Linked DNA regions of Homo sapiens: region 2 is reported to be linked to region 1. The links are microRNA targets in miRTarBase. Many come from high-throughput screens and were not tested one by one. Region 1 holds a microRNA gene; the other region holds the end of a gene's coding sequence.

Region 1 (3,114 bases):
GCTCATGACTGTAGTCTTAGCTGCTCAGGAGGCTGAGGCAGGAGGATGGCTTGAACCCAGGAGTTTGAGGCTGCAGTGAGCTATGATTGCATTACTGCACCCCAGCCTGGGCAACAGATTGAGACCCTGTCTCAAAAAAAGAAATAATCCTATGATTGGCTAGTGACACTCACCCAGAAAAAAAAAAAGAAAAAAAAAAACCCTATGAGATAGGTAGTATCATTACACATGAGGAAACTGAGGCCGAGAGAGATTGAGCCTTGCTCAAGGTTATATTGTTAAGTGGCAGAGCCAGTGTACTGAACTGTCATAATATATCACCTATAACAACTACCTGACTTCCCACTGAGCATTGCAATAAGGTTCTTTTCAGGGCCTGGATGTTCTAATCTTTTGATCTTGCTAGTCTTAACCTCTTTTTGGAATCTACATTATGGTTCCTGTTCCCAGTGCTCCCCCACTTTTTGTTTGTTTGTTTGTTTTTGAGACAGGGTCTCGTTCTGTTGCCCAGACTGGAGTATAGTAGCACAATCATAGCTCACTGCAGCCTCGACCTCCTGGCCTCAAGTGATCCTCCCACCTTGGCCTCCCAAAGTGCTAGGATTGCAGGCATGAGCTACCATGCCTGGCCCCTAGTGCCTTTATTTATTTATTTTTACACAAGTGTTTAGAAAGCCAAAGACCCAGTGCCTTTTGGAGATGGTTTATGGACTTCTGTGTCTCTGCTCCTTTTGTTCCTTATACTACACGTAAGTGCTCAGATTTTTTTTTTTTTTTTTTTTGAGACGGTGTTTCACTCTGTCACCCAGGCTGGAGTGGTATGGCACAGTCTCGTGATCTCAGCTCATGCAACCTCTGCCTCCTGGGTTCAAGCAATTCTCCTGCCTCAGCCTCCTGAGTAGCTGGGATTACAGGCATGTGCCGCCACATCCGGCTAATTTTGTATTTTTGGTAGAGATGGGGTTTCACCATGTTGGCCAGGCTGGTCTCGAACTCCTGACCTCAGGTGATCCACCCACCTCAGTCTCTGAAAGTGTGATTATAGGCGTGAGCCACCACGCCGGCTTTTTTTTTTTTTTTTTTTTTGAGGCAGAGCCTTGCTCTGTTTCCCAGGGTGGAGAACAGTGGTGTGGTCTAGGCTCACTGCAACCTCTGCCTCCTGGGTTCAAGCGATTCTCGTGCCTCAGCCTCCTAAGTAGCTGGGATTATAGGCATGTGCCACCACACCTGGCTAATTTTTGTATTTTTAGTAGAGATGAGGTTTCACCATGTTGGCCAGGCTGGTCTTGAACTCCCAGCCTCAAGTGATTCACCTGCCTGTACCTCCCAAAGTGCTGGGATTAAAGGCGTGAGCCACTGCACCCAGCCTCAGATTGTATTTATTTTAAAACCTATTACTTACTTTGCAAAGCTCTTTTACATACCTTGTGTTATTTGATTCCAACAACTCAGAGCGGTCCAGTAGGATGGATAATGTTCTTATTTTACAGATGAGGAAACTGAGATACAGGAAGGTGAGTTACAGAACTCTGGCTACTGTTCTGCTCATCTCCCAGCCCCGTGAATTTTCATCTCTCTCTTCCCCCAGTTTATTTATGGAGATTCTTAGTTCCTGTTCAGATTGTGATGAGATCCAATTCATGGAAGATGGATCCTGGTGCCCAATGAAACCCAAGAAGGAGGCATCTGAGGTTTGCCCCCCGCCAGGGTATGGGCTGGATGGTGAGTGACCCCCTGTTCCCCAGCTAAGCTAAATCTTGGATGGCCTCTTCTCTGAGACGTAGTCTTCTTAATACCCACAGGCCTCCAGTACAGCCCAGTCCAGGGGGGAGATCCATCAGAGAATAAGAAGAAGGTCGAAGTTATTGACTTGACAATAGAAAGCTCATCAGATGAGGAGGATCTGCCCCCTACCAAGAAGCACTGTTCTGTCACCTCAGCTGCCATCCCGGCCCTACCTGGAAGCAAAGGGTATGAGAAAATAGGCTGAGTCTACAGCAAAACGGACAGGGGAAGAAGTCAGGATTGCTTTCTGATCATTGGACAAAGCCTGGGGCAAGAGAAATGTGGAGGGGACAGAGAGGGAACCTGGGGACCTGAGCTGGGTGAGGGCATCTGTGGTTTGCTGGCTGCCTCAGCTCCTCTCTACCCACAGAGTCCTGACATCTGGCCACCAGCCATCCTCGGTGCTAAGGAGCCCTGCTATGGGCACGTTGGGTGGGGATTTCCTGTCCAGTCTCCCACTACATGAGTACCCACCTGCCTTCCCACTGGGAGCCGACATCCAAGGTATGACATGGGTCATAAGATGGACCCTGCACTGCCACACCCTCCCCAGAGCTACATCAGAACCCCTGTTCCTTCTCAAAGCCTCCTGCTTCTCCTGCAAGGGGCCACAGTCCACAGTGCTTTGTCTTTTGGTGGTAAAGGGGTCAGATAGGAGGTTAATTTTGATTTTTCTTTTCCTGCCAGGTTTAGATTTATTTTCATTTCTTCAGACAGAGAGTCAGGTAAGTGGTTCTTTCTTCAGAAGGTCTCAGATCTCTGAAGCTTCCTTTCTAGACACTGATGGGGCCCCTCCCTCTCTTATGATCTCTGGGGATGTAAATCTGCTTTCCCGTGAGGGCAGTGGGGTGTAGGTATCTTATTATCTCCTCAGCCCCACTGGTAGTTCCTGAGATTCCTACTTAGGCCTCCTTCCTAGATCCCCTGTTACTTTTCTGCCCTGGCCTACTCACCCCTACCCCCGTGTGCACTTAGAGCACCATGCCTGCTCTAACCGGACATTCCACACATTTCAGACGCCCACAAAGCCAAGAACCTAACAAGTTGGAGGAGCTCTCTCAAGGCAGGGAAAGGGGAAGGGTGTAGGGAAGTAGGGGAAAGAGGGAGAGGCTCTCCTGCTTCTCAAGAGAATACCTTCGGATCCACAGGGGTTGATTGCTCTCATACGGCATTTCTGAGATGAGTGACTGGGAGGTGGGGAAGTCGGGATTGAGATCTTAAACTATGCCCTTGATTCTTCCTAGCACTATGGCCCCTCTGTCATCACCTCACTAGATGAACAGGATGCCCTTGGCCACTTCTTCCAGTACCGAGGGACCCCTTCTCACT
Region 2 (3,128 bases), not on the chromosome of region 1:
GGATACCCATTACTTTGTGAAACCAGGACCTTCAGAAGGTGACCTGGCCATCCTGGGCCTCAGTGGGGGGCGGCGAACCCTGGAGAATGGGGTCAACGTCACTGTGTCCCAGATCAACACAGTACTTAATGGCAGGACTAGACGCTACACAGACATCCAGCTCCAGTACGGGGCACTGTGCTTGAACACACGCTACGGGACAACGTTGGATGAGGAGAAGGCACGGGTCCTGGAGCTGGCCCGGCAGAGAGCCGTGCGCCAAGCGTGGGCCCGCGAGCAGCAGAGACTGCGGGAAGGGGAGGAAGGCCTGCGGGCCTGGACAGAGGGGGAGAAGCAGCAGGTGCTGAGCACAGGGCGGGTGCAAGGCTACGACGGCTTTTTCGTGATCTCTGTCGAGCAGTACCCAGAACTGTCAGACAGCGCCAACAACATCCACTTCATGAGACAGAGCGAGATGGGCCGGAGGTGACAGAGAGGACCAAGGACTTCTTGCCAAAGACAGCTACTCTTTTGTGGCCGCATACCTGACTGTGTTGTACTTTTAAAAAAATGATTTTTTAACAAGTGCAGAAACAAAAAGATACTGGTTGCATTGTAACTCATGCAACATCCTTTTTTTTAGAAAAGAAAAACACAGATTTGGCCTTCGCACATTTTTTGCAAAGAACAGAAGGTATTTTTTTCTGTAGTGTGATCACAATGAAAACTTTATTGTCTTTTGTTCCCTTTTTCCTTGAGGATTTTTCCCTTGTCGTTTGGGGTATGTATCTCCTCTCTGAGATGCATCTCCTGGGGTGTGTCCTCGTCTGTCCCTAGGTACCCAGTGTGATGTGGGACATGAATGTCTGTGCTAACTTGTCTCATGTGCAACCCTTTCTTCTTCGACTGGGGTCGGGCAGGAGTAAAGGGAGTGATGGGCCAGTACAACACCCCTTCCAAGGGGGCCTGGGAGGAGGGTCTGTAGGACCTGAGGCTCCTTGGCAGGGCTCCTGCAGAAGAGTGGTGGATTTCTTCTCACCTTGTTCTCTGCCTCCAGAGGATCATAGATGGCTTCATCTTGCTCCAGGGAATTTCATGGTGTTGTTCAGCACCTTTTTTAAGCTGCCCCAAACTCCTGTTCAAGCTTTCTATTTTGATGCTGAATGAAACCCCCTACCACTTTTGCAAATCCTGTGTAGTTGTCGGTGCCACCCCCATGCTGGGATAGAGAAAGTGTCTCCCAGGTCCTTTCCCCCAGACCAGTGACATAACATCCTGGGCTCAGAGTCCCATCCTCCCGGGAGGGAAAGCACCCAGGATGCCTGTGATTGGTTGGTCCTCCATGATGTTCCTGTTCATCTCCTCCTTTCTCCCAAAGCCAGATGTGAGAACGAGCACTGCACAGCAAGCCTTCAATGTGGGCACCATGTCCACAGAACAGAAGGCCACCCATGGCAAAGGCATGGCAGTGGTGGCGAGGGCACCAGCCTGCCTTCCGAGGCAAAGCCCTCTCTCTATGACTTTGAGTATCTTCCCTCCACCACTCAGCCGCCACCACTGAGACGTAGGAATGTGGAGGGAGGTGCTTGGTGGCCTTTGATTCTGGAAAAATGCTTAACAAAAAAAGCCAGCCAAAGAGAGGAAGGCATAAGCTAAGCATCCTTCTAACCAGTTCCCAAAGTCCCATCTGCCTCCATGTACCAGCTGATCGCAGAGCTGGACTGGGGCAGGCTGGGCTTCCAGGAAATTCCTGAAGTTCTGAAACAGCTTCCCCTCTAGAGAAGCCCACCCAATGTGTTTTTTAGTGACAGGAAGAAAGGAGGGAAGAGCTGATGTGGTGTGGCCTGCCCATATCATACAACCCCACCAGGAGCAGGGCAGTTCCCAAGGTGGGTGCCCGTAGATCTGGGAGGCCAGGCTGGCATGATTCCTGTGAAGAACTGTGCCTGTGTCGTCAGGGAGAGGCCTGAGCCCTCTCAGAAGCAGGGACAGCCCACACCTGAAGAGCACGCCCAAGCTGAGGCAGCAGCCAGCAGGCTGGGGGAGCAGTGAGGGCAGGGGGAGTCACAGCCAGAGCTGGGAGCCCCTTGTTCAAGGATTCCATTCCTGGTTCATCCGCCTAATTACCATTGTCATTACCACTCACAGGAGGCTCTGGGAGATGGGAGGGGAAGCCAAATGCTTCCTTTTAAGCTGGGCTTCTTAGAAAATGGAACTTTTATGGGTTACATTTACATTAAGTGTGGAAAATGAATTCTGAGTCTGAGCTATTCCCCGTGGAAACCTTGTTGGACTGATAAGCTCATGGCACCTCTATAGCCTTACTCACATAGTCTTCAGAATATTACACAAGTTAATGAAACTGAGAAGGTCTGACTGCATGAGGATCGGAGCAGCATGTAGTCTGGGTTCTGCCTGGCAGAGGGAGGCAACCAAAACTTCTTGGGGAGAGGAGATTTCGCCTTAACGTCATCCCACTGGGATTAGAGGATGTGTTTCGCTAAGTGCTCTTCCTGTTTCCAAAAAAAAAGCCACCCTGCTGCAGCAGTGCGCTTTGGCCTGCTTGTCCACTGGTTGCCCATTGCCCCTGGATCCAGAGCTCTACTGAGTCAGATACAGTGCTCTGCAGGCCTGCTGTGGGAGGCATGAGCTGGAGATGGGGGCTCCCATCTGGCAGGATCATTCTTGGATGAGATGGAAAACAGTTTGGCCTGAAGAACACAAGTTTTGTCCTCCAGAAGGGACTTACGCCTCTCAAAATGTACTCTTCATACCAAGGGCCCTTGGGCAAAGTGCTCCTGCCCAGTTGATCAGTCCCATCCTGGCTGCCTGACATCAGTGAAGACCTGCTGGGGATGTCTGCTCAGAGGTCAGGAACGGCATGCGGTCCACAGGAACCAGCTCCCTACGCTTCCCCCACGCCCTGTCCCTCCTCCACAGCCCCCTCCCCAAAGGAATAGGGTGGACTTTTAGGGATCAAAAACAGAATTATTGGGTGTTTCATTTATTTTTTTCTTTCTTTCTTTTTTTTTTCATAGAGATGGGGTCTCACTATGTTGCCCAGGCTGTTCTCAAACTCCTGGCCTCAGGCGATCCACCTTGGCCTCCTGAAGTGCTGGGGTTACAGGTGTGAGCCACTGCGCCTGGAC

What was found. The annotated mature microRNA hsa-miR-6736-3p reads UCAGCUCCUCUCUACCCACAG and lies in region 1 at 2,135-2,155, shown strand. An mRNA with a match to its seed (bases 2 to 7 or 8) in the 3' UTR can be bound and repressed. Matches are read on the target gene's strand: a 7mer-m8 pairs with bases 2 to 8, a 7mer-A1 pairs with bases 2 to 7 and ends in A, and an 8mer does both.
Region 2: the mRNA of TENM4 is a reported target of hsa-miR-6736-3p. Seed matches in the 3' UTR shown: 7mer-A1 at 1,806-1,812.

What each region holds. Positions count from the first base shown.
Region 1 is chr1:145,849,628-145,852,741 of GRCh38, reverse strand. MIR6736 (microRNA 6736) reads left to right here and starts at 2,097; the gene lies at 2,097-2,155. PIAS3 (protein inhibitor of activated STAT 3) reads left to right here. Exons shown (of 14, transcript NM_006099.3): 10 at 1,589-1,722; 11 at 1,803-1,971; 12 at 2,156-2,289; 13 at 2,473-2,510; 14 at 3,030-3,114. RefSeq lists an enhancer at 1,862-3,061.
Region 2 is chr11:78,655,399-78,658,526 of GRCh38, reverse strand. TENM4 (teneurin transmembrane protein 4) reads left to right here. Exons shown (of 34, transcript NM_001098816.3): 34 at 1-3,128. The coding sequence ends at 469. Among named protein-coding and RNA genes, the nearest start is that of NARS2, 82 kb to the right of the region's middle.